Linked DNA regions of Homo sapiens: region 2 is linked to region 1. Evidence: fine-mapped expression QTL. A gene starts in region 1. The other region holds a variant in brackets. All regions are shown on one strand. Distances are from middle to middle. Region 1 holds the start of ARHGEF3 (Rho guanine nucleotide exchange factor 3). Region 2 overlaps ARHGEF3 (Rho guanine nucleotide exchange factor 3).

What was found.
Region 2: its variant is fine-mapped to the expression of ARHGEF3 in whole blood (TOPMed, PIP 0.98).

Annotation. Positions count from the first base shown.
Region 1 is chr3:56,793,896-56,810,006 of GRCh38, forward strand. It overlaps ARHGEF3 (Rho guanine nucleotide exchange factor 3), which reads right to left and starts at 8,054. Exons shown (of 10, transcript NM_019555.3): 1 at 7,808-8,054. The coding sequence starts at 7,903. RefSeq lists an enhancer at 5,640-5,689 and a silencer at 8,054-8,223.
Region 2 is chr3:56,749,204-56,765,314 of GRCh38, forward strand. ARHGEF3 (Rho guanine nucleotide exchange factor 3) reads right to left here. Exons shown (of 10, transcript NM_019555.3): 3 at 5,778-5,948; 4 at 4,301-4,363; 5 at 2,097-2,193; 6 at 1,853-1,929. Among named protein-coding and RNA genes, the nearest start is that of ARHGEF3, 45 kb to the right of the region's middle. RefSeq lists an enhancer at 13,749-14,626. The variant C/G (reference allele first, on the strand shown) is at 9,524.

The sequences.
Region 1 (16,111 bases):
AGCATATTAAGCCTAAAAGAAATCCTGTTTGTTGACATAGTATCATACAGTATCCTTGCACTTATTAATACTCAAGTTTTTCAGGCACACTAAAGATGTCCAGAAGAAATAAGCAAGGACAGGAAAGAGATAGGACAGTATGTCACATTTGGAAAAGTTAAGGGAACCAGGAATACCAGGCCAGGAGAAGGAAAACATCTGAGGGGAGAGAGGGAGAGGAGAGAATGCACATGAGTGTGGAGTGGGAGAGGTGCAGAGAGAGAGTGGTTTTCAAATACTTACAGGGATAACACATAAGAAAGTATTACTGGGCCAGGCATGGTGGCTCACGCCTGTAATCCTATCACTTTGGGAGGCCGAGGGGGGTGGATTATCTCAGGTCAGGAGTTCGAGACCAGCCTGGCCAACATGGTGAAACCCTGTTTCTACTAAAAATACAAAAATTAGCAGGGCGTGGTGGCGTGTGCCTGTAATCCCAGCTACTCGGGAGGCTCAGACAGGAGAACAGCTTGAACCCGGGAGGCAGAGGTTGCAATAAGCTGAGATCGCACCACTGCACTGTAGCCTGGGCAATAAGAGCGAGACTCTATCTCAAAAAAAAAAAAAAAAAAAAAAAAGAAAGTATTACTGAACATTGCTGCAGGAAGCAATGTTACAACTAAGAAAGGATTTTCTCATCATCTATACTGAACACAGACGGAGTACAGTCATCCTTCAGTATCCAAGGGTGATTGGTTCCAGAACCCTCTCAGATACCAAAATCTAAGGATGCTCAAGTCCATGATATAAAATGGCATACTGTTTGCCTATATCCTACACACATCCTCTTACACTTTAAATCATTTGTAGATTACTTAGAATATCCAATACAATGTAAGTGATAATCGTTGTTATCCTGTATTGTTTTTTATTTGTATTATTTAAATTGTTGTATTGTTATTTTTTATTGTTTTATTCCCTGATATTTTCTTTTTTTTTCTGAGACAGGGTCTCCCTATTTCACCCAGGCTAGGGTTGCAGTGGCACAATCTCAGCTCATTGCAGCCTCAAACTCCCTGGCTCCAGCAATTCTCCCACCTCAGCCTCCCAAGTAACTGGGACTACAGGTGTGTGTTACCACGCTTGGTGAATTCTTTGATTTTTTTTTTTTTTAGAGATGGGGTCTCGCTGTGTTGCCCAGAATGGTCTCAAACTCTTGGGCTCAAGCAATCCTGCTGCCTCTGCTTCCCAAAGTCCTGGGATCCAAATATTTTTGACCAATGGTTGGTTGAATCCGTGGATGTGGAACGAGTGGATACAGAGGGCCAACTGTATACAACCTGAAATGTTGTCCCTGGAGGTGTTAAGCAGAGATTGAATGGATCTGGCAGCAGATAAGAATTGGGCTACATGTTCTCAACAGGCCTTTCCCACTCTGAAGTTCTCTGATGCAATGACCCTGGGTCATTTCCTGGAGGCTGGATTTGTTTGCTTCATAAATCCTCAGAAAAAAAGAGCCTGTTTTGCTACTCCTTTCCTCCTCATCTTAAGAGCCAGAAAGAAGAAAAAAGTCTAGTGAACTTACCGTTAAGGTTTCTCATTCAGCTTCAATTAACTGAAATTTACTAACAATCAGGGCTACCTTCTCTCAAAAGGACACAATGGTCCAAACAGAAAGTCCGGGCACAAGTGTTTCTAGACTTAAAAAGAGCCACTCCTTTCCCAGCCAGTAGAAGGTTTGGAAACCTTTCCTGATTAACTTGTGACACAGTCTCTCTCTCTTTTTTTTTTTTGAAGATGGACTCTTGCTCTGTTGCTCAGACTGGAGTGGCGCTCGGCTCACTGCAATCTCTGCCTCCCAGGTTCAAGTGATTCTCCTGCCTCACCCTCCTGAGTAGCTTGGATTACAGGTGTGTGCCACCACGCCTGGCTAATTTTTGAATTTTTAGTAGAGATGGGGTTTCACCGTTGGTCAGGCTGGTCTTGAACCCCTGACCTCGTGATCCGACCACCTCAGCCTCCAAGTGCTAGGACTACAGGCGTGAGCCACCACACTGGGCATGACACAGCCTCTTCTAAACTAGTTATTGGTGTCAACTAATTAAAAAAAAAAAAAGGAAGGCAATAGAAACCACTGGCTTTCACTCCTGACAGTCCATGAGCCAACATAAGAATAAATGGCAACGCAGTCACGGCAATTTCCTCATTTTGTGTGACCTCTACCCATTATCAAGGCTGACAAATTATGGAAGGCAACTGCACACATACATGACAAAGTAGCCCTTCCAGATACACACATCATCAATAACAATTACATTTACACAGGGCTTTGCAAAATTAGGTTGTGATCAGTAATTTATTTTCTTTCAGTAGTTATGAAAACGGTGGCATCTGTCCAGGATTTTTACGGGCAATCACAGGGTGTCTCGAGAAAATGACACAATTTGCAAATATCCAGATGGTATTTGGGCCTTCCAGTGATTGGTTTACACAGAAGGCTTGTGGTTAATATAGATAAGCAAAATGACTAACAGAACTGACGGTGGCACCTCCACACAGCTAAGCATGCAGAATTCTGCCAAAGACCAGCTCCTTGGTCTTGAGAAACACAAAATGAAAATTACTAAAACCCTCCCAAATGGGGGCTTGCAAATCCCACTCCCGTGGGTTGCAGCCGTTCTATGAAGTGGGCTGCCAGAAGTATTGACTAATGGTGGGGTTTCCTACCCAGACACTCAGGAAAAAAATGGGCCTTTGAGCATCAGGCAATTTTTTGGGCAGGTGGGTTCATCCTTCACGTGTTATGAGGTGAGAAGACCAATGATTTAGTCACTTAGAGGCAATGTGATGTGGTTGGAAAAGTACAGACTTCAGGGTCAACTGGGATTTTAGTCTCATCTCCTTGACCCAGCATTAAAGCCATCCTGGGAAAGCCACTACCCTGTTCTGAGCCTGTTTCTTCTTCTACAAAACAGGGCATTAATACCAACCTCATAGGATTACTGTGATGATGAAAGGACTTACGGTAAAGCCCCTAATGCACTGCTGTGTGTAAAACAACATTCAGGAAATTAGGCTGGTGATCATCATGTTTCTTAAAACCATTTTAAGAATCTTTTTTTTTGAAATGTAAAGGTCTTAATAATAATGACATTTTTTGAGCACTTACGACATGCTAGGCACTATGGTTAGCGCTGTATATGAAACATCTCGTTTGACCCTCACTATGGTCCTAGGAGTTAGAGCTCTCATCATCTCCATTTTACCATTGAGGAAACAGGTTTGGAGAGGCACAGTAGCTTGTCCAAGGTCACATCAACTAGCAGGTGGTGGAGACAGCATTGAGACTCAGGCAGTCTTATTCTAGTCAATGCCCTTGAACAGCATTAAATGTACACATGTAAAGTCAACATATTTTCCTCTTCTGTTGCTAGTTCATGTGCATTCTTAAGGACCAAGATTCCCAAAATAATTTTCCAACTGAACAGCCTCGGAATGATGGCTCAATGACCATAACCAGATCCTATAGCAAGTGATGGCCTTTTTCTGGGTAGCTCCGTGTGGCTTCCCATCCAGCAAGATCTCTGAGGTCATATGATTCCTGGAGTCTATTTAATCATCTGAAGAAATTACAGGATTCTAACTGCAATAACTCCTTATGACTAGTTTCATGTGTGTTCAGGTATACTATCTGTTCAATACAATAAGATACAGATTCCAAGAAATGTATAGATTACTAGAAACCAGTAACCCTCTGGCTTTTCAGCTGGCATTCAAGAAGTACAGCCCGAGGTGCATACAATTTTAAAATGCACATGTTGACTGATAGAGGCATAAATCGTGGCAGGAGCATAGGGTTCACCTTGCCCTTTAGAAGTGGGCCTTAAAGGATACCTTCTCAGTTATGTAAGGTGCTCAAGGTTATACTTAAAAGATAATATTTTAAAGTATTTTGCATGTCTGTTAAGTTTTGTACTACCACCCCACCTTTTATCCCACAAAGGTAAACACCCTTAGGTGCTACAAGGGATGCTGATATTAAATGCTGGACGGAATCCATCAGGAAATTTGACATTGGATCTTGGCTTAGCTGCTGATTTTCTTTGCAGCTTTCTGCAAATCGCTTCCCCTCAGTGTCCTTATTCATAAAGTGGAGAGAACAGTACAAGCTTTATGTTAACCTTATTACAAGTGTGGGGTCTCAAGTGAGACACTAGACATGGTAGACATAGAAAAGGAGCAGAGCTCTGTCATTTCTAGGTGCATGTCATTATTCTCAGGGTCATGCAAGGCTACTGGCTAAGTCAAAATAAGAACCTATACTTTGGAGACCCAGGGCAGTATTCAGCTATTCATGAGATAGGCCTATGGTCTATGGCACTACAAATTTTTAAAACTGCTGAGAGTCAAAAGCAATGGCTACAAATACCATTAACTAAATCAGGCCTAATCTGACCAATATCTAAGATGGTAAATTTTAAAACTGAAAGTAAGTTGTCCACCAAGTTGTCAGATATATTCTTACAAAAATAACAGAAACACCTCTTTGTATTTTGATTAAAAATGAACTGGACCTAAAACTCTTAAAAGCTTCTCACAAGGCTCTAGCTTCCTTAGCCAATGTGTGCACCTTACCTGAGCTTGCTTCCTTTTCTTTACTTCGTTTTTTTTTTTTTTTTTTTTTAAGCCTTCTTTTTAAAAAGCAAACCTCACTACGGGGAAATATTGATTTTTAACTTACAATCAGGATAATTCATTAGAGGTAACACATTTTCTTTTAGTGATTTGATCAGGTGTTTAGCGCAGCTATGTAGACCAGTCCCTTTTGGCATGGGAAGTAGATGACCAATAAATACAAAAACAGATAAACTGAACAAAGCTGCATCAAAGATCAGAAGAAATAAACTTAATGCTCGTATCATATCACATTTTTCTGTGAAATTCTAGAGCCATGAACTAAGCTCCTTAGATTTCACAATTAATGATTACAGCCAGCAGGACCTCACTGATTATGGATATTAAAATTAAACATTTGCCAACCAATTCAAACCCCCATGTCATAAGAAATAGCAGATTAAGAGGCAGTATTATACTAACAGACATGCAATATTATAATCCCTGTAGAATATTTTCAAAAGCTTAAAATAGATCTTTTAAAGAAAATAAAAATACATTTTAAAAATATCATTTTTTGCTTTCACTGGAAACTACCACAAATAAAAAATTACAAATCACTTAAATCTTGAGTAGAAATTTTATTTGCTTTTAAGAGAATGCTTATTTTTGCATATTTTTTTACTCAGTGTACGGTATCAAATGCACATCAATGCCACTTGCCTGTTCCCCAGGAGCCTTTTCCTAAGTGATTTTCCCCAGTACACTTGCTGCAAGGATAGGAGTCAATGCTAGAAGGCACTTCCCAGTGCCATGCTGTGTGCACTGTCCTACCCAAGGCAAATTCGGAAGGAACAGCCATTACACACGGCCATTAAATGTTTAAAGGGCACAGGTGCTCTGTTGCAACGGCCTTTGAAGGTCAACAAGTCCTGTTTTCCTAGAAAGGCCTCTGGATAGATCTATTTTTCTTTTTATTATAACCACATTCTTTCCACAAAGAAAACAATCACTCTTAAAAAAATACTTTCAGAGGAATTAACAGTCAATGCCTAGCTTATAAACAATTATATAATCATGTTTTTCAAAAGGCTGACAAGCGAATGCTATTTTTTAATTTATGAATACTGACGACACCTACTGGTGGAAAATATATTTTAGTTAACTGCTTATGGAGAAGCTAGGCCTACAAGGGTTGGCTGCCTTTTGCGCTGATAAGGAAACCAGAAAACTACCCACTAAACTCACTTAGGTTTCTTTTTCCAATTTTGCCAATTTCCATTATCAGGAAGTGATATGCTCATCGATGAAGCTAAAAGATATCTCTGCCTCAAAGTGTATAAAGCATACTTGATTTAGTGTTTAAATCAAACACTAAAAAACAAAAACCCCAATAGTGATATCTGAAAAATATTTACCAACTATTTCCAAAACTATTCCAACCCCTTCCTTATTTCTCACATCAGGATATCCCCATACGAGGAAAATAAGTCATATTTTATAGTCTAGATCCAGCTACCAATGAAGAAAATTAATATTTGACATGTGATAAGTTTCATATTTGTGATATATAGACATATCTATATTCTATGTATAAGAATAAAATGAAATTAAGCAGGCAAGTTTTACCTAAGCCTTTAGCTAAACTACTCAAAAACACAGGACTAAGTAATAGTAGGAAGGGACTGGTTAGAGTCCTCAGCTATCCTCACTATTCTTTTCTTTGGCCCACTTCAATTTATTAATTTATTGGTTATGCCTTTCTTCCTTACAAGTGGAGTTTGAGTGGGCACCAATTGCGCTGCTCCTATGTTGATTAAATTAGGAAGTTCCCACTGAAAAAATATTATATCCATTCCAGGCCTGACCAACCTGAATTCTATGCAAATGCCACTAGGGCCATCACACTTTCACAGCTGCTGGCAACAAAAACTCTTTGTGATAATATTCGACTGAGCTGGAGTGTAGGGTTGGGTTTGAGTGAGGGAGAAGTTAGTTTGTGCTCAGCGTATAGAAAGCTGAATACAACCAGAGACTGCTTGGAGTCCTGTCAGCCTGGAGCAGCTCTTGCTAGAGGAAATGAATCTTTGATGGTGTGCTCCCGAATATACATGATTCAGTGAGCCAAGTGCATACAGCTGAGCAGACCCAAGGAAGGCGAGTGGGTGGAACCTCAAGAATGCTGTGACAAGGCCGGATGCACACCTGCCTTCAGCCTTTCCCCAGTGGTGGTGGTGATGTTTGATGTTCGCAGAGTGAGGTGTGGGAGAGTGGAAAGCTCCCAGATACACGCATGAGCGGCAATGACTAGCTGGGTCCTGTGGGTTCCACCGCAGCTTGACCACAGCAAAGCTGTAATCTAGCGAAAGCGACTGTATTCCCTAAGACCCTCAAAGAGAGGGATGCTTTCTCCTCCAGCTGAACCCAACCTTTAAGGCCAGTGAGCTATGTGCCAGAGAAATAACACGCAAGAGGAAAAGGCAGACTAAACATAACCTGGGAGCACTCCTTCACATCGCCCGCAAGGCACAGGAAAGTTCCCAGAAAGAGAAATGTTTCCAATGTTCCAAGGCAGCTTTCCATTGACCCTAAGGACTTTAATTCATTTTCAAGATCCATGTGGGAGACACTCCAATTTACTCATTTAGCCCCAGCCCCCCGGCTGAATGACCCTCACTGGCCACAGGTGATAGGCAGAGGCGCTGTGTCCTGTTTTTGCTGCCAAAGGGCTGCAAGGCCAAGTCTGACAGGTGAGAGGGCTGGTACGTCCCTCTGCTCTCACAACCCAGGCAAAAAAAACTCGCTTAAAGGGTAGCGACACTGGGGCTTGCTGACACTTCCCTGACACTGGGGCTTGCTGACAGTAGGAGAAAGTCCCTCTGAGAGTCCAGACAGAAGATGGACAGTCTGAGAGCCCTGCAAAGGCAAGGAGGCAGTTGCTCCCAGACCGGCAGGTAGAGGGACAGGGAGAGAGGAGGCAGCTAGTGCTTGGTCCACAGAGAAAAAGCGAGAGAAAAGGAGACAGGGTGAGAGATGGCGACGGGGAGACACAAAGAAGACTGTGGGAGAGATGTAGAGAGAGAAAGTGGCACACACGGAGAGTGAGAGATGGAAACAGAGACAGTGACACTGGACGGGCGCCGAGAATGGGAGATGGAGGCAGACGAGACAGGCAGATGACCCATAGAGGTCCAGGTGCAGGGCGCGGCCCTACCTCAGCGTCCTTGGCCGGACCGCTGGCCGGGGGTAGCTCCAGGCTGCAGTTCGCTCTCTTGACCGTGAGGTAGAAGGGGTAATCCTTGGCCACCATGGCGGCTGCCGGGCCTGCCCTTTGGGATGTCACCGCTGACCCTAGGCGACTACAAAACTCCCAGGCAAAAGGGGGCCCCAGCTCCACGATGCCGGGCGGCGGCGGCGACACGGAGACCGACAGCCGGCTTCTAGCCGGGCAGGACTCGACTGGGCTCCGGAGCCGAGTGGGCGGGACCGTGCCAGCCACGCCTTGATGGGTGGGGAGGGGGCGGGCCGCCGGCTCGGCACCGCCCCACGCTGCCGGGAGGGCCCACGTGCCGCAGCGCGGACACCTCCTGGGGCTGCGAGGGGCGTGGGGCGGTCCCGCGGGTGGAGAGGGACCTCTCTCTCCCCGCTGGTATTCGACTCCGGGCGCCCCCGCAGAGCGTGGGCCGCGATTGCGGGGCAGGCAGACCCCATGATAGCTCCTTTCGGGCTCTTTGGCACTCTCCGGGTGAAAGGCTGCTGGTAGAAAGGAGGCTGGGGCGAAACCGGGCAACGGGGAGAAAGGAGGCTGTAGTGACACCTGGAGGCAGGAAGGAGCCTGGGGGGAAAAGCGAGCGTTTTAAAAGCCCACATTAGAAAGGGGTGGTGTTCTCTCTTACCCTGTTCCCAGGCCACTGCACGTTTTTTTTGTTTTGTTTTGTTTTTGTTTGGTTTTTTAAATGAATGTCAGTGGAATATAATCTACAAATGGCAAAATGCACCCATTTTAAGAGTACCGTTTGTTGAGTTCTGACAAATGTAAACACCCGTATAACCACCTCCACAGTCGGTATACGAAACATTTCCACCACCCCCGGAAAATTCCCTCGAGACCTTTCCCACTTTGCACCAACTTTTAAATTTGACTAGCATATTCAGAGGCTGCCTGACACTCGAGGGCAATCTGACAGAGTGTCCTTCAAGTATAAAGCTGTGCATGGATGACCTGGCACTACCACACCTTTCTGGATCCTTTTTGGAGAAACAATGACATTATAAATGCCCAAGAAGGCGATTGATCTTAAGGTTGTTTGCAGCAGCCCTGTCTGGGGCAGTAAAAAATAAAAAATAACTGGAAACAATGGTAATATATCCATCAATAGGGAGTGCTTAAATAAACTTTCTTCACTGTGTAATACCGCTTAGCAGCAGTGAAAAAGGAGATGGGTCTATGGGTGTGGCATGGAAAGATCTCCAATGTATTAGACTCAGTTTAAAAATAATTGCAGACTAAGCATAATACAATACCATTTGTGTTAAAAAAAAATACAAGTTTACCAAAGAATATCATATATTTTCTATAAAGACATATTTGTGGGTAAATAGCATTGAACACTGTCTACAAGAATCCACAGCAAGCTTTTACCAGTTCCCCTGTGGCTGAAGGGAGGCACCTGGGTTTAAAGAATTAAAGATAGTGAACAAAAGGGACTTAAGCTTATAGCTCATGTTTTAAAATTTTTTATAAGAAAAATACAGCCTGGGCAGCAGTGAAACCCTGTGTCTACAAAAAAAATACAAAAAATTAGCCAGGGATGGTGGTGCACACCTGTAATCCCAACTACTCCAGAGGCTGAGGTGGGAGGATCACTTGAGCCTGGGAGGCAGAAGTTGCAGTGAGCCAAGATCATACCACTGCACTCCAGCCTGGGTGACAGAGACCCTGAGAAAAAATAAAAAAGAAAAGAAAAAAAGAAAGAAATAGAGGAAGGAAGAAAGGAAAAAGAAAAGAAAAGAAAAGAAAAAAGAAAAGATGGCTAGGTAGAGTGGCTCACACCTGTAATCCCAACACTTTGGAAGGCCAAGGCAGCAGTGTGGCTTGAGGCCAACAGTTCAAGACCAGCCTAAGCAACATAGCAAGACCCTGCCTCTACAAAAAAATTTAAAAATTAGCCAGGTATGGTAGTGCATGCCTGTAGTCTCAGCTAATCCCGAGGTTGAGGTGGGAGGATTCCTGAGCCCAAGAGTTCAAGGCTGTGGTGAGCTATGGTTGCACCACTGCACTCTAGCCTGGTGACAGAGTGAGACCCTGTCTCAAGAGAAAAAAAGAAAAATACCTTCATTCATGGCACTTCTTGGGAAATTATAGTTTTTTAAAATATTATAATTATCATATTTTCTTTCTTTTTTTTTTTTTTGAGATAGGGTCTTGCTTTGTTGCCCAGGCTGGAGTGTAGTGGCATGATCTTGGCTCACTGCAACCTTCTCCTCCTGGGCTCAAGTGATCTTTCCACCTCAGCCTCCCAAGTAGCTGGGACTACAGGCCTGGACCAGTGTGCCCAGCTAATTTTTGTATTTTTGTAGAGACAGGGTTTTGCCATGTTTGCCCAGGCTGGTCTCCAACCCCTGAGCTCAAGCAATCCACCTGCCTCAACCACCCAAAGTGCTGGGATTACAGGTGTAAGCCACCATGCCCAGCCCTAAAATGATCATCTCTCAAAAGTTATTTTGTAGACTGTACTGTTGAATCTTTTTCCTCCTCATGTGGAAAGTCATGACTACATCAGGTGGTGATCTATGGAGACACTATCTTTTGTTTTTACTTCCTGGGGATGCAGGGGATAGTGGGAATGGTGATATCCAGTCCCTGTTTGCGTGCTCTTTGCTTCTAGCTGAGGTCAGAACCCAGCAGTTCCTACTTCTCAGGCAGGACACCTCATAATACATAGCTCTTCATCCCAGGTATCAAATCCACACCCTCACACTAAATCCACTTACTTTCCTACCCAGCTAGTGCAGACAAACTGCCTTTGGAGGCAGAAAGAATTGGGCCCTGTGTAACCAGCCTGTTATTACCACACATGTAAATGAAGCTCCTGAATGGGTGGAGGTTCCAACTGAAATTGAAGAGAGCACCTGAGTTTTTTTCCCTCGATAGATAACCTGAAGCAATAGGAAGAAAACTGTCTCAGAAGAGGTATGGGGCAGGAAAGAGCACCTCAGAACCACTGATTTTTCCTATTTGTATTCCTGAACACAATTTTATCCTTTTAGCCTGAGCTGTGCTGATGGGGAGCTCACACAAGTGCTCCAAAAGCTTAGCCAAGCTTGGTGGGGGTGTGAGAGTAACCTCATCTCCAAGTAGCCCCTGATTAACTATGCAGCCAAAGGCAGGGCCAGAGGCAGTGACATGCGTCACTCAGGGCTTGTCTGGCCACCAAGAACCTGTGCCCAAGTACCCGAGCCACTTCTTATTCCTCTTTCTCTGCCTGCTCTTCTGGCCCTCACAGTCCACTATCTCAACTAGAACACATTTGCCATCAAAGCCACTGGCTTTGACTCCCAGAAGAGCTTGCTGGGCCGTGTTCTCAAGTTGGAAAATATACTTACAGCACTTGGTGAAGAAAATAGTCACCCTGGCGACGTCTGATAGCCCTGGGACTGGGTTGCTCATTGCAGTATCCTTAGGGCCAAGCAGGGAGTCTGACATACCATAAATCCAGTGTAACAGTAAACAAACCCTAAGAAATATGTTTATTTTATTTTTTTGAGACAGGTCTCACTTTGTTGCCCAGGCTGGAGTGCAGTGGCACAATCTTGGCTCACTGCAGCCTCAACCTCCTGGTCTCAAGCAATCCTCCCGCCTCAGCCCCTCAAGTAGCTGGGACTACAGGCACACGTCACCACGCCCAGCTAATTTTTATATTTTTTGTAGAGATGAGGTTTCACCATGTTGCTCAGGCTGGTCTTGAATTCCTGAGCTCAAGTGATCCACCCACCTCGGCCTCCCAAAGCGCTAGGATTACAAGCATAAGCCACTGTGCCTGGCCTCCGAAGAAATGTTAAAGTGCAACTTAGGTTGAAGCACAACTATTGCAGAGCAATGAACAGTCATATTGATTGATGAGAAGGCTGCCGTATCCATCTTCTCTTAAAACATTTCTTTGCTTTCCTTAAAATATACTGGAGCCATAAAAATCAATAAATACACAGGGCTACACAACATATATATGACAAACATACCTCTTTTCCACTATACATGCTAGGCAAAGAGAGACAGACAGAGGCAGAGAGATTACTAATGGCCTGTAACAATTTAAATAGTGCTATAAAAAAGCATAAGCTACAAAAGGAAAGATGGGAATCTGGAATTCTCTTGGGTGGTCTGATTCTTCCAAGCTTCTTATAGCACGAATGTCTCACCATCCAGAATAGGATTCTGGTGTTTAAATACAGATATTTTTGGTACAACAAAGCCTATAAACTCAAGCCAGCAATTTGGGGTGCATACAAGCCATGTATATGGTCCTTGAGGCATTTAACAAATTTTTCAGGAGTATTTTTTTTTAACTTCCATCAGTATATAGGTTAAGGTCAGGATTAGCTATTTCAGGAGTATTTCTGACCTCATGCAATTTCCACCTTGGTCCCTGACTTCAGCACCTTCCCCATATGTAATGCACTGCTCCACCATTGACAGATTGGGGTTTTAGGCAATCTGCCTGAGACACTATCTGGGGGTGTCCGTGAACAAAGACTGTCAGAAAACAGGCACCCCTGCAGGAGGGCCTCCAAGCATATCCCTAAGGTTAGTGTCACAGTTGAGGGAAGCTGGTCCAGTCCTGCAATGCCGCCAAGCTAAGTGGCCCCAGGAGCCCAGAGCTCCCCATTCTGCCTGTGTGTGTGTTTACGGGCTTAGGAACAACACTGCTCTAACAGGCAGCTTCACTCAAAGAAACGGCACAAAGTGTCTTTCAGAACTTGCCTTCGGCATAGCCCGTTATAATCCTATAAAATGCTTCACAGCCGGGCAGTGTTCCTTGCCAGCCAGAAGCCTGGAGACTGAAATAAAGAGGGCTGTTCTGCATTTGCAGGAACTGTGCCAAGCACAGGGCCTGTGGTCTTGCCTGTGTTGAGCGGGGGTCATTTGGGCTGCTGGTGGAATGGTAGGCCTGAATACAGAAGCCCACCACTGGTTATTAGCTCCTTTTAGACTTGCAGACAACCAGGCATGGCTTGGAGACCATCTGTCAACTCCTTAAATCCCAGTCCCATGACTGGGAGCAGAGCAGGCCTAGCCTGAGGATAAAACCAGAAGCTAACATGGCTGTGACAGCCTTCTCAGCCAACAGGACAATGCTTTGTCCTATTAGCGTTATATTTTAACATAAGGAATAGCGAGTTCCTTTTTTTTTTTTGAGACACAGTCTTGCTCTGTTGCCTAGGATGGAGTACAGTGGTGTGATCTTGCTCACTGCAACCTCCACCTCCCGGCCTCAAGCAATTTTCCCGCCTCAGCCTCCTGAGTAGCTGGGATTACAGGTACACACCACCACGCCCGGCTAATTTTTTGTGTTTTTAGTAGAGACGGGGTTTCACCATGTTGGCCAGGCTGGTCTCGAACTCCTGACCTCAAGTGATCTGCCCCGCCTTGGCCTCCCAAAGTGCTGGGATTACAGGTGGGAGCCACCGCGCCAGGCCTGAGTTCCTTTTTCTTTAAAGGCTTGTTCATCCATCCGTTCATTCATTTATCAAATAATTAATGAATGCTTATTACAGTCAGGTGTTCAATTAGATACATTTCTCCCCTCCTCTTCTCCACCCATTCCTGAACTTCTATGCCAGGCAGATGTTTAATACATACTTGCTCAAAGAATAAGGCCAATTTTAAAATGTGGCCTTTCAATTGTAACCTATGTGTTTACATTTGAATAAGGAGCTCAAGGAACAGTAGCTGATCCCCGAAAGCCTGGGCCTCCAATATGTGTACCTCTGTTTGCTTTCCCTGGTATCTGAAGTCATCTCTTCTACCTGCTAAAGTGGCATGGATGTGTAGGTATATGGTGGGCACATGAGTGTTGCAACACCTTTCCCCTCCCCTTCCATTTGGGTGACATTTCCAGTTAATGACCAAGCCCCCCTCTCCTCTCTCTAATTTCAGTTTTGATGGGGAGGGAACCTAAAGAAGTTCTGGCAGTGAATTCTGGCAGATCAGGACTGTGATTTACTGCTAGATAGGTAAAAATGGCACAAATGAAGCAACCATCATCTCTAAACTCATACCAGTATTACTATTCTCCCTTTGCCTGAGGAGCTGTCCACTGACTCCAGTCTAGATTTACAAAAATGTATCTCTGGGCTGGGTGCAGTGGCTCATGCCTGTAATCCCAGCACTTTGGGAGGCCAAGGCGGGTGGATCGCCTGAGGTCAGGAGTTCAAGACCAGCCTGACCAACATGGTGAAACCCCGTCTCTACTAAAAATACGAAAATTAGCCAGGCATGGTGGCGGGTGCCTGTAGTCCTAGATACTCGGGAGGCTGAGGCAGGAGAATCACTTGAACCTGGGAGGCAGAGGTTGCAGTGAGCCGAGATCGTGCCACTGCACTCTAGCCTGGGTGACAAAGTTAGACTCTGTCTCAAAAAAAAAAAAAAAAAGTATCCCCGGATAGTCTAAAGCTGGAAGGCTTAATTCTTGCATTTTCTTTAAGGTCTCATTTTCTGAAAAACTGGTTAAAGGAGAGTATCTCTCTCTCCCAGCTGAGCTAATCCTGTGGATTATCAGCTATAAAGCAAAAAAAATAGTAATAATAAATTAGCCAGTCACAGTGGCTCACGCCTGTAATCCCAGCACTTTGGGATGACGAAGCAGGAGGATTGCTTGAGCGCAGGCGTTCGAGACCAGCCTGAACAACATAATGAGATCCCCATCTCTACAAAAAAAGAAATATCCGAAAAGTAGCTGGGCGTAGTAGCATGTGCCTATGGTCCCAGCTACTTAGGAGGCTGAGGTGGGAGGATCCCTTGAGCTCAGGAGGTCGAGGTTGCAGTGAGCCATAATCATGCCAGTGCACTCCAGCCTAGGCAACAGAGTGAGAACCTGTCTCAAAATAATTAATTAATTAAAATAAAAATAAAAAATTAGCTATGAAATTAGCAAATTTTTTTGTTTTTTCAAAAAAATAATAATATTGAAGTGTTTTGCCCTGAAACATCATAAACATTTGCTAGCCTCTGGTTCATAAGAGCAATACTTCTCAACCAATGGTGATTTTACCTCCCAGCAGATATTTGGCACTGTCTGGATGTATTTTTGATTGATTGTCAGTGGACAAGGCCAGGGTGCCATTGGCATCTAATAGGTAAAGGCCAGGGATGCTGTTAACACTTATGATACACAGAACAGCTTCCCATAACAAAGAATTAGCAGGTCCAAAATGCCAATAGTGCCACTATTGAGAAACGCTGTGGTAAAGAGAGAGTGGTCCTGAAATATGGTATTGGAGCCAAGGGAATCTGTGGGTATTGACCTCAAGGTATTTTCACTTCAGACTTTGATCATTGATTAGTATCAAATATCAGCTTAGGCTTGGTGGGGCAAAGAAGAAATGCTTGAGTGCCAAGAAACCCCAGAACAGGGCAATGAATCAAGTCTTCCCTGATGCCCAAACCTGACCGTTGGCTGAATAACAAATTCCATAAAACACAAGACAGACAAAAGAATAAAGAGGAATATAGGAGTAAGGGAGTGAGGGGACAGAAAACTGTCTTAAACTGCTTCAGGTACACAAATATACTTTAAAACACCAGTGAAAATTAAAATTTCAATGAAATATAATAAAGAAGAAACCAGGGAAGAGGGAATTTTTTTCAAGTCTTATTCTTCCCCAGGACAACCTTTGCCACTATATTTGTTTTGGGGGGCAGAAATGCAAACTCAGTGATTAAATGAAAACCCTAAGGGGTTTAATTTACTATTTTCTTGATATATGGTGTTTCTGGATGCACAGTTTGTATAAACAAAAACCTGTCTCACTGAAGATTTTGCAGTAAGAAACCTGACCTTCTCCAATTTGAACTTATAACTATCAGCAGGCTTGTTCTGCCCACAGAAGTAATAAAACATTTTCTGTGTACTACTAGAGTGTCTTTGAATTTTCTGGAGAGTCTGCCTTTGAGAGTATTTCATATTTGGGGGTTAAGGATTCAATAAATATGTTATATTTAATTTTTAAAATATTTTTTACTTTACTTTTTTTTTTTCCTTTGTGACAGAGTCTCACTTTGTCACCCAGGCTGGAGTGCAGTGGTGCAATCTCGGTTCAGTGCAACCTCCACCTCCCAGGTTCAAGCGATTCTCCTGCCTCAGACTCCTGAGTAGCTGGGATTACAGATGTGCACCACCATGCCTGGCTAATTTTTGTATTTTTAGGAAAGACTGGGTTTCACCATGTGGGTCAGGCTGGTCTCGAACTCCTGGCCTCATGTCATCCACCTGCCTCGACCTCCCAAAGGGATTACAGA
Region 2 (16,111 bases), 45 kb before region 1:
CCAAGTCCTCATTTGATGTCTGAAGCATCCAGATAGCAATGGGCCAGCATGGTCACACTTCCTTTGGGTATGTACAGAAAATGACTGCAAAGCTGCTCCCAGATCAAACCAATTTTCTAATAAACGTGACAAATGTTTATTTCAGCAAAAAGTTACTAACAAGGCAAATTCCTACAATTTTGCTTCTGGCATAAACTGACAATTTGCATATGATGCTTAAGGAAACCATGTAGTCCTGTACTGCTGTCTCATCAAAAGCAGAGGAGTTATCCTACAAATTCTGGAGTGTGGCCTAACTGCTCCATTTACCCCCATATCAAAGCAGTCCACAGACTCAGGAAGTTTAAGAGACACTGAGGCACTCTCTACTCATTATACCTTCTTTGTCTCTGTCTGTCTCCGGTTGGCTGGCTCTCTTTGGAGAAATTTCTTTGTGGGCTAAAGAAGTTAAAACATCTACGATGGCTCATAATAAAATGAAAGTCAAAAATATAAGATGAATGATCTCTCTTGAAATATTAAGGCATATTTTCTAAATTATTCATCTTAGAACATTACTTGCCTTTCGGATACCTTTGGGATATTTCAGCCTTGGTGCTAAAATTGACTCCTGAACTAAAGCTATTTAAGTCATGAAACTCTCATCAAGTATCTTGATCAAGGCAGTCATTGAGAAACGTAAGTTAAAAGATCAATGTTAAAACTTTCTGCACATCTATGTGTTATCAAGGCATGTTAACTGAAAGGTTTTAGGAAGATTAAAATGCAGATGTAACGGAATAAAGAGAACTCACATAGCAACAGTAGGATTTATAACCTTCACAACACTCTCCAAACAGTGAAATAATCTCTAATATTAGCTGTTGTGGTACTTCCTGCCTATTTTTCTGGAATACTGTGAGCAACAGAGTGATGAGAGACCTAATCTTGCCTGGAATAAGTCAGCAAAGTAATCTCCTCTCATTATCTGCTTTATAACAAATGAAAAACACCTGGAACTGGGGTGGACCATTCAAGCACTCACAGAAGGAAACATAAATGTGTAGAATAGGGAGCGGTGGGGACTGAGGCAAAATAAGAGCACACGCCTTGTCTAGCGTAAGTGAAACAAACAACTTTAAGTACACAATAAAACACAAATCCAGCCCCAGGATCATAAATTTATGACTCCTAATCTAAGATCACAGCTTACTTCTTTTTATTTAATTAGGAAAAGGAATGGATTATATTAGGATGAAGGTCACCATATACCCAGCTCTCCTATAAATTACTTAGCATGGTATATATGCTAAACATTAGCAACCTTTACTTATTATCTTGTTTATAAAACTACATTTTGACCATGAGATTTTTTTTATGGCCTAAAAAGTTTTTTTTAATATGCTAAACATTAGCAACCTTTACTTATGATCTTGTTTATAAAACTGCATTTTGACCATGAGAATTTTTTTTTAATAGCATGACAAGTTTTTTTTTTTTTTTTTTGGTAGTGGATATATGTCAATAAATTTTTATTGGAGTATATTATGTTAGCGATTGGCCTGACGGAATATTAACTAGTTTTATTTTGATACGAAACTAGTAATAGTTTCATGTGTACCTTTACTTATTTTGTTCCAAAAGGCCCTGTTACTTTTAAATGCAATAAATTTGTAATAAGAAAAAAACTATTTTCATGCTTTAAAGATACAAAACTTAAATTTAATTAAAATTTTACTAGGATTTTTTTTTCTGATGTGAAACCAACATTTGTAAAAAAATAAAAATAAAAATAAAAAAAGTCTAGCTAAAATGAAACTCCCATCTATATTATTGAAATTTATCTTCAATAAAGACCAGAGAACTTTCTTACCCAGCCCACGAGGATGGGACCAACATGTTCAGTCGAGCCATCAGGCTTCCTAACATCTCGAAGCTGACTAAGGAGCTCTGGCAAAAAACAAACAGATGCTTATTTGTTAGGCATTCAAATATGAACAGGGCTGGAAGTAGGTTCTGGGTTATTCACATTGCAGGCAATTAATAATCACTCACTCATTATAAGACAACTCAGTTAAGGCTACAAGTCACGACTCATCCTGGGAACAAAATTATACCTTCATGTAGAGGAATTAGAGAGTCCAGTGTTCCAAAAATTTGATTCAACTCTTGTTCTGTCATTATGGAGAGTTTCAGCATGGGGTCATGATAGGCCTGCACAAAAACGGCAAGAGATGGAAGCACATGTTTAAAATCAGAGGAAGTACATTGTTCATGTAAGTGGCTCCTGAGAGGTCCTATCCAATAACAAAACTTCTGGCTCTCTAACAACTTCTCCCATAAAGCTGCAGAAACAGCAGAGAGGTGTGGCTGGAGGAGAGGAGAAACCAGCACTGCCTTAAGCCTTTGTGGTTGATAAACCAAAGCAGATTTTTCAAAAGCTTTTTTATTCTAGTATGTCATATATCTAGGAAAGAGCACAAATCCTAGGTATAGAACAGATTTGACTGTTAAAATGTTTTCAAAATCAAGATCCTGCCTCTTAAAAAAATCCCACTTTATTCAAAACTAGCTACTAGCAGATTCTTTTTTCAATTAGTACATATTTAAAATAAAGAAAAAGAGGAAAGAAACAGTGATTGGTATCCTTTACTACTGATTTGAACAAAGAGAGCAAAGGTGATAATCCTATCACCTCTTACTAGAGAAAATTAAACAACAAGAATACACAGTTATACCCAGGGCACTAAAATAGAACACAAAGACTTAAAAGTCTCCTACCTTCAAGGAATTTTATAAAGCTAATGGGGAAGATAAGAAAAACTAAAATATTTTCTAGTTTATATTTTAGTTTCTGATCTCATGGAAAACTAAATCTATGTTTAAAAAATATTTTTTTCTTTTTTTTTTTGTACTTTTTAGTAGAGACAGGGTTTCACCATGTTGGCCAGGATGGTCTTGATCTCTTGACCTCGTGATCTGCCCGCCTCGGCCTCCCAAAGTGCTGGGATTACAGGCGTGAGCCACAGCACCCAGCCTAATTTTTGTATTTTTTAGTAGAGACAGGGTTTCACCATGTTGGCCAGGCTGGTCTTGAACTCCTGACCTCAAGTGATCCTTCTGCCTCAGCTTCCCAAAGTGTCGGGATTATAGGTGTGAGCCACCGGACCCGGCTTATGTTTAAAAATTAAAGATTAAAAACCAGACTGATGTCACAAGACAGCAAAAAGCCATCAAATCAAAACTGCTCTAGAAGGTCAGAGAATTAAAGCTGGAGTGGCCAAGGGAAGTTTTGAAGATAAGCTGCTTGGTACAGAGAAGGAGGCAATAAATGTTATGTAAGAATAAACTGAGATTTGAGCTGGTTCCTGAAGGATGGGTGGATATGAATGGTTGAAACGAAAGAGAAAAGTTTCTAGGAAGGTAGGGCCACCATAAGCAAAAGGATGGCTGGGAAACACCTGAAGGTGCTTGAGTTTGGCAAATCTTGATGCAGGAAAGGGGAGTTAGACACCAGCATGATAACTCTCAGAGTGAAATAACTTCTTTGTCCTCTCTGATCTCCTCCTCCTCCAGCTCTGCCTAAAACTCAGTTTCTTGGCTGTGTCCAAGCAAAGCTTGGGTGGCCATCTCTCAGGAATGCTAGAGGTGGAATTTCATCTTAGCAGAAAGACTAAAAACCCTTAAAAGAAGGGATGTAGCCTTCCAACCCTGTGATTCTTCGAGGAGGCTGTGAATATCAGATGAAGGAGTCTGGATTTTAGCCTCCAAGCCATGGAGTTGGGGGGCTGTGCCACTGGAACGAAAATGTTTTTGAGGAAGGTTTGTTGTCCTCCTCCTCCCCACACAAAATGTTGATTAGAAAACAAATTCCTATATAAAAGACCCCAACTTATATGATAGTATGCAATTGCCTCATTTCACTTTATTCACTTTTGAGATTCAAATGGCTTTATTTCTAAGACTCAGTTCAAGTTTCAGACATGCACACATTCTCTCCTATGGGCAAAGAGTCCTACATATGAGACTTCTAGGACAATGAAATATACATAAGGCGAGGCCTCCATGGACACTTTCTGATTTAGGCTGAAGTATTCTTTGACATGCATTAGAGACATACAGAGGTAAACCCCTAAAGGTGCCAGGTCTGGAGAGCTATTCTGCCCTCTTGTTTTGAAACACTTTCCCCACTGCTTGGTGTGTGGTAGCAGACCAGTCTTAGTCATAAAGACAGTTCTCACGAAGCACCACTTTAGGGTTGTGAAATTACTCAAGAAAAAAAATGTGACTTGACTCAAGTGACTGCTGGATTTAAATTTACCTTTTTTGCTAATTTCAAGTCTTCTATCAAGTCTTCTTCTCCTTGGGAAAGCTCAAAGATCGCCTGCAAGGAAAGATAAACATATTCACTGAATTCTCCCTTCATTTACAAGACCATATTCAAATAGTGCTGGCTCCACCACTCAAAACCCCAAATTTACATATTTAAGTATTTTAAGTTACGTTAACCTGAAGCAAATGCATCTATGCTTAAACCTGCAATGAAAAGATATTGCAAAACTGCTGCATATTGTGCTTCTCTGTTTGTGGGAGAAAGTTTCTACACATTTCTAGTCCAAAAAGTCATCTTTCATGTTACAGAACTTTGATGCAGCTGAACAAGAGGGAACTATTTTAGGTAAAATAATTACAGTGTGAGCCATGGATTTGGTACCCTTGTTGTGAGAGGCCATCATAAGAAGTGATTCAGAGGCTCTTCTAGATAATGGATGTGGCAGTATTATTAACTGGGCCATCCCCACTTTTTCTTCTACTCGACAGAAGGCGAATCTCAGCAGAAAGTTTTATTTGTATTATCCACTGCCTTGAGGCTGAGATTGTAGGAAGAATCCAACATTTTATCACTCCAAATACAACCTGGTGAAGTTAATTCATTCTAAACCACTTCTCAGCCCCACAGGTACAACAAATAAAATTATAGGCGCTGGCTGTGTGGAAGAGTAGGTAAATGGACCGTTTCTAATTTGGCTCTATTAAGCCATCATGCTAAAGAGCTATGATGCACAGAACACTCTTTCACTTCCATCTGGGAAGTCAAACTGTCAGCAAACATTACATTATTAAAGGAGTACAAGTTTGTAACGATATTTCAGGGTCTACTGTGTTTCAGGATATAGGGAAACAGTGGTCAGGCTTTGAAAGCTCCCTCCACCTGGGGCTGCTTGGTAAACTGAGGACAAAGCAGGTGGAGGCACAACCCTGAGCTGGATACTCCAAGGATCTCATCAGATGATGCACACATGAAGTGCTCAGCACAGCCTGGCACAAGCACTTAAACAAGCTCTTCTATACAGGGTAATATTATCAGAGTCATTTAGGGCAACTGATACAGAAAACTTACCGGGAATGAAATTAACTGGATTCTATAGAAAGGAAGTTTTCCATGAAGCTGAATCAAAGCTATGTAAACTAAATATTTTAAAATAGTCTATAAGTTGCTAACAAAATATAACTAAAATGATTATTTTTGTGAACTTCAGAATCCTAAATAGACACTTGGTTTCATCTTCTTGTAAATTCATATTTTCACATCAGTTTCTTTTTAAAGTGGGGGCCACACCCTCCCAGCTGGTTTCTGGTTTCTCAGTTCCTTCCCCAAGGTCAGACACTCTTGTTTATCCTTCTGCAAACGCAATGAAGAATTGATTTGGAGACTAAGGCGCAAATTCCAGCATGGCTGACGCTGCAATGCACCTTTGTTCCAGACACACAGCCAGCTCCATGGGCCCCGAGCCTACCTCCTGACGTTTGATTTCCTTGGATGTAAGCATCTGATTGACGCACACATCGAAGGTCTCACTCCACAGCTTGCTATCTCTCCGTTTCGTGCTCGAGGGGGCGGCATTTCTGGACCAGGGTCGGGGGGCGAGGATGTCAGGGCGGCTCTCACTGCGGAAGCTAATGGAGCGCTAAACAATGAGAAAAACAAACCATCACGGGGGCAGCGGCAGGACTGGGTGGATCTTTGAGCAGTTTCCTGTCGTTGACGGAACATAAATCATATATGTGAAAGAAAAAGAGGACATTGCCACAAGGCCTTTGGGAAGTGGGGCATTGTCTTGAGCCTACGTGCTAAGGAAAATTGGACAGGGGGCTGCTTTGGAACATGTGCTGGGAGTATCTGTTCTGTGTGACCTGGATACCAAGTGGACTATAGTGCAAGCACATATCAGGCCAAACTCACGCATGAAGGCAGTTCTTGGATACGTGATGAGCTCTACTTTTTTCCAGTGGACATCTCCCCTCTTTAAAAGAACCAGAGATAACAATAGTGGATGGCCTTTATTTATTCAAACATTTGGCCAGTACTCCTACTCTCCTCCTTCTATAAATAGAATCCCACTAACTTTGGGTATCCTATTACATATAGTTTTGGTGGGCACCCCCAGACCTGACCAATAGAGTATTCCACCATCCTAGTTCAGGGATGGGCATGTGATTCCCTGAAATTTGTCACATGAGTTACGGGAGAAAGGAGGAAAGAGTATTCCTTTGGGATTGTGAGTTCAAGAGAGAACACAAGCAGGGCCTTCCAGCAGCAACTCTCCCTAGTTACACAGAAGCATCTGTCTGCTACAGGAGAGAATAAAGAGACCCAGAATGAAGGATGGAGTGACCAATGGAGGCAGGAAGGGAGCAAGCTTTACCAATACTGCTTGAGCCTCTGGATCCCACTGTGCCTGAAACCAGAAAGAACCACCCTTAGACATTTTCATTACATATAGAAAGACATTTCCCTTTCTATTATCTCAGTTGGGGTTCTGTCAACTTGAAAAGTCCTGACTAATACACATACTAAATACCATCTTTGCAGCACATGATTCCTGTCCCTGAGGTATTTTCCTATTTCCCAAAGAGGCCGCAGAAGTCCACCTGTGTGACTTAAACATGCTACCAAAATGCTTTTCATGACAAATACAAATGATCCAGAAGAAAGCTGAGTGCATCATTTTCAGTCTTCATCCTAGAAGATTTCATCACACTTATTGGAGACTTTGCCAAAGCAATGAGGTTGCTGTGCTCCAAAACCACATTGTTATTTAGGAAGTGTTCCCTGCCATGGCTCTCTGTGGCCTTCAGCAGGAAGTTTCAACTCCTCATCTTGGCACAGGAAGTCTCTTGTAATCTGACCACAGTCTCCATATTTAGGATCCCATCCTGCCACTCATCCATGAGCCTCCATTTCTCCAACCATACTAGGCTATCTGTCATTCCCTAAATATGTCATGCTTTGCCATCCCTCTGTACTCCCTTCAAACAATCTTCTCTTCCTGGAATGTGTTTCCATCACTTCATAGCTGGCTTTTTTTTTTTTTTTTTTTTTTGAGACAGAGTCTTGCTCTGTCGCCCAGGCTGGAGTACAGTGGTGCGATCTCGGCTCACTGCAAGCCCCGCCTCCTGGGTTCACGCCACTCTCTTGCTTCAGCCTCCTGAGTAGCTGGGCCTACAGGCGCCCGCCACCACGCCCGGCTAATTTTTTGTATTTTCAGTAGAGACAGGGTTTCACCATGTTAGCCAGGATGCTCTCGATTTCCTGACCTCGTGATCCGCCCGCCTCGGCCTCCCGAAGTGCTGGAATTACAGGCATGAGCCACTGTGTCCGGCCATAGCTGGCTAACTCTTAACTGCCCTCGGGATGTAACTCAAACAGCACCTCCTCTAAGAAGTCTTCACCAACATTCTCCCATCCTCCTCCCCCAGAGCAATTCAGACATACTTCTGATATAGCAATGATCATACTTGATTATAATTATTGGTCACCTGCTCTTAACTAGAAACTTCCTGAGGTCAGGAATTGAATTTGCTTATGACATATGAGCCTTCATCACAAAGGCATTCTAAGGTAGTTCCCAGTTATTTTGAGATTCAACAATAAAATTCCAGAAAGTAAAGAAAAATTTTAAAAGGAACTATTCAACATAAGGGCATTGTTAAATAAGTTGTAAGTGGCTGGGCACAGTGGCTCACGCCTGTAATCCCAGCACTTTGGGAAGCCGAGGTGGGTGGGTCACCTGAGGTCAGCAGTTTGACACCAGCCTGGCCAACATGGTGAAACCCCGTCTCTACTAAAAGTACAAAAATTAGCCGGGGCGTGGTGGCATGTGCCTGTAATCCCAGCTACTCAGGAGGCTGAGGCAGGAGAATCGCTTGAACCCAGGAGGCGGAGATTGCAGTGAGCCAAGATCGTGCCACTGCACTCCAGTCTGGGCGACAAGAGTGAGACTCCGTCTCAGAAAAAAAAAAAAGTTATAATTACCTGCTGGATGGAATATTATCTAGACAATTCAGAGATAATTTAAAATGTAAACACCCCTTCTATGTAGCCTAAAATAAAATCAGGATTAAAAATCTATATGTGAACATTTTATAGTTATGCAAAAAATGCACATGAGCAAAGATATAAAGGGAACATCACAAAATTCTATTGTTGTTTCATGTTGACATTATGAGTGATTTCTGTCCTCCTTTATATATTTTTAGCCTTTTTTTTTTGTTTTGAGATGGAGTCTTGCTCTGTCGCCCAGGCTGGTGTGCAGTGGCGCAGTCTCAGCTCACTGCAAGCTCCGCCTCCCGGGTTCACACCATTCTCCTGCCTCAGCCTCCCAAGTAGCTGGGACTACAGGCACCTGCCACCACGCCCGGCTAATTTTTTGTATTTTTAGAAAAGACGGGGTTTCACTGTGTTAGCCAGGGTGGTCTCCATCTCCTGACCTCGTGATCCGCCCGCCTCGGCCTCCCAAAGTGTCTAAAATGGCCGGGCGTGGTGGCTCACGCCTGTAATCCCAGCACTTTGGGAGGCTGAGGCGGGCGGATCACCTGAGGTCAGGAGTTCAAGACCAGCCTGAACAACATGGTGAAACCCTGTCTTTATTAAAAATACAAAAAAAATTAGCTGGACGTGATGGTAGGTGCCTGTAATCCCAGCTACTTGGGAAGCTGAGGCAGAAGAATTGCTTGAACCCGTGAAGTGGAGATTGTAGTAAGCTGAGATTGCGCCACTGTACTCCAGCCTGGGCGACAGAGCAAGACTCCCTCTAAAGGAAAAAAAAAAAAATAGAAAATGAGGCGGGGCTTGGTGGCTCATGTCTGTAATCCCAGTTCTTCGGGAAGCCAAGGCAGGCGGATGGCTTGAGCTGAGGAGTTCGAGACCACTCTGGGCAACGTAGCAAGACCTCATTTCAGTTCTAAATTAAAAAAATATATATAGATATATATGTAAGAATAAATGAAAAATGTAAAAAGAAACTTCCAAAGAGCTTCAGGGTATTACCACAACCTTCTGGAAGCAGGACGCTCACTCTGCAAGTAGCAACACAAGCCCCTTAGGCTGGCACAAGTAGTGGGGGTGCTCCTGGGCTCACTAATGAGCTCATGATGGCTGGACCAGCCCTATGCAGGTCAAGAAAGTACTTGCACCAAATACACAGTTCACTAATGGTATCTTACAAATCCTTGTGATCTCTTAAAAACAGTCCCTTGTAAA[C/G]AGTAACCAGGAACTAAATGCACACAGATCGCCAGCACTCGGAATCAATTAGCCACAAGCATTAAAAGGTCAAAACAAGTGCAGTGAGTCATTAAGTAACTTGCTCAACCCAGTTTGCAGTTCTGATGGCAGCTGAGTTAAGAATTAAAGAGCAGAAAGAAAGGAAACACACACAAAAACTTCAAAATGAAAGTTTCCACTTTCACTTGAGAGAATCAACCTCCTATCCTGTTATATTTTCAGTCCTTGGCTAACTTTAAACTCCCCCTACCAGTTTGAAAATAATGTATGCTAACTTTAAATTCTCATACATTACAAAAGTATATAAAATTAAGTACAAATGCCCTCATTTCCCCAAGTCTATCTCCTAGAAGTAACAACTGTTAAGTTTGTTCTAGCTCTTTCCAAACTTTTTCCATGCATTTGTTAACATTCATAGAAAACTGAATTTTTTTTTTTTTTTTTTTTTGAGATGGAGTCTCGCTCTGTCGCCCAGGCTGGAGTGCAGTGGCACGATCTCGGCTCACTGCAAGCTCTGCCTATTGGGTTCACACCATTCTCCTGCCTCAGCCTCCCAAGTAGCTGGGACTACAGGAGCCCGCCACCAGGCCCAGCTAATTTTTTTGTATTTTTAGTAGAGATGGGGTTTCACCATGTTGGTCTCGATCTCCTGACCTCGTGATCCGCCTGCCTTGGCCTCCCGAAGTGCTGGGATTACAGGCGTGAGCCTCCGCGCCTGGCCGAGAATGTTTTCTCTTTCTACTTGACAGTATCTTGAGGTGAAATTTACATAACTCAATTACTTTTTCGTTGTTGTTTTTTTGGAGATGGGTCTTGCTCTGTTGCCCATACTGGAGTGCAGTGGTGCAACCATATCTCACTGTAACCTCAAACTCATGGGCTCAAGTGATGCTTCCACCTCAATCTCTTGAGTAGCTGAGATTATAGATGAGTGCCACCGCTAAGCAAGTGCCTGGCTAACTTTTGTATTTTTGATTTAGTAGACATGGGGTCTTGCTGTGTTGCCCAGGTTGGTCTTGAACTTCTGGTCTCAAGAGATCCTCCCGCCTCAGCCTCCCAAACTGCTGGGATTACAGGCATGAGCCACTGTGCCCAGCCTACAATTAACCATTTTTTAGTGAACAATTCAGTGCTATTTAGTATATTCACAAGGTTGTACAACTACCATCTCTATTTAGTTCCAAAACATTTCCATTACCTCAAATTCACGTATTCTTTTTAATGGCTGCAGAATTAGTATCCCTCCCATAGTCTGGACAGACCTATTGATTTAATCAATCCACAACTGATGGACATTAAAATTGTTTCCAGTGTCTGGCTATTACAAAAAGTGCCTCAGTGAACATGCTTTGTGTATTTGTGCTGATACTTCTAAAAGGCAGGAATTCCTTAAGTGGAATTCCTTGGTCTAAGAAGTATGAACATTTTAATGTTTGAGATGTACCACTAAGTTGACCTCCAAATAGGCTATTCAACTTTATATTCCTCAGATAGGTACATAATAGTACACTTTGCTCACACTCTCATCAACAAGGTATTATTATCAATCTGATAGGTTAAACAACTATACCTTAATTTCAGTTTTGTGTTTTGAAGGTAAGATTGAGCATATTTTAATTAATTTATTTAAAAATTTCCCAGAGAGTTGGAGATTGTCTTCTGCTGCGGCATGGGAAAAAAGAGAGCAGTAAGCTGTACTAGGTGAGCTCTACCACTATGAATTTCTTGCTTTGCGTTTCCCTAGTGATTGCTGGGCTCAGGGTACTATGGGGGATATCACAGAGGGTCTTTTATGCGCTTTGCCTACACGTAGCACTTCTGATATATTCTCTCTGATTCTCACAACCACCCTGCAAGTTGGGGGTTTATTCCCATTCTACTGAGGAGGAAACTGAGGTTGAGGGAGGCTAAGATTCAAAACCAGATCTGGTTCCAACAGAGCCTGAGCTCTTTCTACTTTGGGGACTGCATCTACTGTTTACATGCAAGACATGCATTTTGGGGAAGTTTCAATGAGATGGGATCCAGCTCCTGCCTTCTAGGAATATAAATCTACTTAAGGAAAGAGAGAGAATACATTTGCTCAGTTTTAGGAATAATGGCTGATATCTGACCAATCAAATTTCAAATTTACACCTTTAATTAGGCTGGATTAAAAGAAACATTTTTTCTTACTCCACTCAGAAGGGACTGGATGTTGAAAGAAGAATCCCAAGGGAGGAATAAAGAATGCCAACCATTTGTCCAGGTGAGGTTACTGACACCTGTAAGTCTAGCAATTTGACAGGCTGAGATGGGAGGATTACCTGAGGCCAGGAGTTTGAAACCAGCCTGGGCAATGTAGCAAGACCCTGTCTCTATAAAAAAGAATAATAATAAAAGAATACCAAACCAGTGAGTGGTCAGCAGCCGTCTGGCCCCGGGGAAAAGGGGCAGCAGCTGGTATGGTCTGGGGACAGCACATGGGTGATGGGCAGGTGTTCATAACAGCACTGACCACATACCATGAGCTACCCCTGAACCCATCATCAGTACCACTGGGAAAAACTACATGAGAGAACTAGAGTTGAGGGAGGAACAGGCAACTACTACTAGAAGAAAAAAACTCCAAGAGGATGCCTCTTTAGAGAGAAGAACAGCCACATCCCTATCAGCATCCCTGCCACTGTCCATCTACACACCCTCTGCCCTTCTCTTTTTTTTTTATATTCAACATGTGCTGTATTTATAGGTTTGTTTGTTTCTTTCATGTCTATTTCCTTCCAATAGAAGGTAAACTCCTTGAAGGCAGGCATATCTACCTCCTCTATTCACTGATGGATTCATCAGCAACTGATATAGTAAGACCTCAACAACTTTTGCTTAATGATTAAATGTTATGCTTGCTATGTGCTGGGCACTGTGAGGGGAGCTTTAGAGCCCTGCTTATCTGAGAGGTAAGGATTCTGTCCCCTTTACAGACAAGGAAACTTGAGGCTCAGAGAAGGTGACACTTTGCTGAAGGTCACACAGCTAATGAATGGTGCTTTATTATTTAAAACCCGGTGGTAAGGTGACTGTCAGAATGACAATCCAAGTCTGGTCTATTTCAGGCCAACCTCCCTGCCCCAATATTTAACCAATATCCTACCCTAATTGCCCTAGGATAAGATTCATAGTGTAGCGGGGTACATGTGCCCAAATAAATGAACTGTAGTTTACTTCTTGGCCTGTAGAAAGTTTCTCAACCTGGCCACCACAACATTTTGGACTAGAGATTCTTTATTGTGGGAGGCTCTCCTGTGCATTGTAGGATATTTCGCATCATCTTTGCCCTCTAACCACCAGATGCCAGCAGCACAGCCAGCCCAGTTATGACAACCAAAACACCTCCAGACATTGCCAAATGTTCCTGGGGTGAGAAACGCCAGTCCACGGTAACTAGAAGAGGCCCACCTCAAAGTGAGGGACCTGGCCTTGGGCAGGACCACATAAAAACAGAAGCACATACATAGATCTCCCTGGGTGTGGGGATGCTGGGACCGGAGTGAAAAATATTCCAGGACAAGCAAGAGTTTCCATGAGGGAATCTGGCCTAGCAAATGAGTCAAAAACTGCAATCTCATAATTGCTGGCAGCTAAAACAACAATGACCATAAAACAGAGATAATGCAGATTGAGGAAATGGTGCTCAAGTTTATGCCCAAGCTGGATATGTGGAAAAGATGCTGCAGATGCAAAACAGACTGTCTGCCGGGGGTTGGGGGACGGGGGTGGCATGTGCGCTTTACACGTGTCAGAGGAAATGTAAACCCAGCAGGTAGACATGATGGGACAGATCTGATTTGTTAATGCCGCCTGTTCAGCGGAGTCCTCCCTTGCCCTTTTCCAAAAACCATTTTCCACAGCCACAGATAACATGCTCCAATAAAGTATTCAAGCCAAGGAAATTCTCCACACTTACCATGCTAACCATATTGCTATTTTGTAGCAGATGGTTTATTATCAGGGATTGGAGGTTGGGGTGGGACTGTAAGAGGAAAAAACTCTCCTATGTTGCCACTGCGGTGGGTTAAACCAAAATGTACAGCAATAATGGCCAGGACAGGAAAATGTTAACCAACAGCATCCTGGAGGAGTCTCCTATGAGGCTCCATTACAGAAATTAATGTTAAGTGAGAAGTAACACTTCCCAGCTGTGTGGTCTCTGTCACATTTGACCCTCATGCTAATCCTAGGAGAGGATGAGTAATTTGAGTAGCAGAGTGGTAAGTGAGTGGCACAAGTTAAGTGTTGGAATAGGAACTGAGTGCAATTGTTTGACTCCAAAACATGGATTTGGGTGAAGAACATAGGCTTTGGAGTAAAACAGGCATGGCTTCAAGTTGATTCAATGGCTGAGAGACCTTTCATCTCTCTGGGTCTCAGTTTCCTCATCTCTAAAAGGTGCATAATAATAAGTACCTCACAAAGTTGTAGTGAGGATTGGATAAGATAAAGTACACAAGAGGCTTGGCCAAGTCCCTGGCACTCGGTCAGCAGGAATGGTAGTTACCTATCATTGTCATACCACAGACCACACTGCCACTATTAGTGCTTGTTTATACGTGCTTTCATTAATTAGCAAACAGCAGACACATCTTTCTGAACTACCTGGGCCAAATGGCTCCTAGAGGGACTTCCATTAGGATAACTCCTAGGGAAAGAAAAGCCCTCAGCAGGACACTGTTGTTTATAAAAGATCTGGAAACAGCCTAAAATGTTCTACAATAGGGATTAAACAAATTACTCTGCAACAATAAAAGGGAACCTTAAACAGTTGTTAAGAAACATTCTTTTTGAGAAAAGCTTAATGATAAGGAGAGAGCCTCACATGCAGAGTTAAGTGAGAGAAGAAAGATCCCAATTTGAAATACAACAAAATGTTAACAAGGTTTACACCCCTGGATGGTGGGACTACGGATAATTTTTGTTTTCTTTTTAAAATTTTATTTATTTTTAATTTTTTGATTTTATTTTATTTTTTTTTGTAGGGACAGGGCCTTACTATATTGCCCAGGCTAGTCTTGAACTCCTGGCCTCAAGCAATCCTCTTGTTTCAGCCTCACAAAGTGATGGAATTACAGGTGTGAGCCACTGCACCTGGCTGATTTTTATTTTCATCTTTTAATTCTCTACATTTATTTTCCAGACTTTCTTTAATGAAGAAATATTAACTAAGAAGAAACACGGTCAGTTGACGAACATGAAAGACAATGAACACTGAGTTAGAAATGGTGCAATAAACATAAAACCACATATTTACAATCTGATTCAGATTGATGCACATTAAAACCATGGTAAAAGGGCACCCAATTAATTCATAATCAATAAATGTCAAACCTCAAAGACCCAGTACAACAAGAAACCCTTCTGTAGCTTGGAGATATTCTGAGTAGAATGAATGAAAAGCTGAAGAAAATATTTGGCTTAGGTGTAGAGAAAATATTATACAATTTGCATAGTGCAAGTCCAAAATTAGGAAGGCTTCCAGAGGCTTGGGGCAGTAGCTCAACCATCTTCATTGGGCACCATAAAATGGCTTTTGCATGAGAATGTTAATGACAAGATATTCCACAAGCTGAAATGGAAATGATGACTCTCCCTGCCACAGAAGGTGAACAGCAGTGAGGTGGGATGCTCCAACTCAAAAGTCTGGTGACTATTTTTAAATCCTGCCAAACTTCAGGCTTTATTATGACCAAACTTTGACTTTTTGTGATAAGCCTACGGCAGGAGAGGCACTCTGAACACCCTACGGAATCCCAGCTCTGGCACTTACCAGCTGTGTGACCTTGGGTACAATTTTAAACTTTCAGATCTCTCCCTATAAGTGGTGATGAATCCTATCTTGCAGAGTTTTGGAGAAGACGATATGAGGCCATGAACATAAGGTACTTTGTGCAGAACCTGGTTCATCATAGATACTACACTAATGAGTGTTATTACTAAATAAAAAATGACAAGCTTTAAATTACAATAGTCAACAAATTTTTTTTTTTTTTTTTTGAGACAGAGTTTCGCTTTGTTGCCCAGGCTGGAATGAAGTGGCACGATCTCAGCTCACTGCAGCCTCCGCCTCCCGGGTTCGAGCAATTCTCGTGCCTCAGCCTCCTGAGTAGCTGGGATTACAGGCGCCTGCCACCAAGCCTAGCTGATATTTTGTATTTTAGTAGAGACGGGGTTTCACCATCTTGCCCAGACTGGTCTTGAACTCCTGAGCTCAGGCAATCCGCCTGTCTCGGCCTCCCAAAGTGCTAGGATTACAGGCATGAGCCACCGCACCCGGCCCAATATCAACTATTTACAGTGGCTTCCAGGAACAATAAACAGTAATATTCTACCACTCCAGGAATAGTAAAGAACAGCAGAGAATCAGGAGTTCCTCTTGAGATGGACTACAGATAACTTGTCAGCTATACTCTCCAAGCTTGTCCAACTTGCCTTATTTTGTTGTTGTTCTGTTTGTTTTGTTTTAGGCTTTTAGCAGCCTGAAGCCATGGTTTTTAGTTTCTGTTTCCAGTGATAAGCGGAAAAGAGGGATAAGGA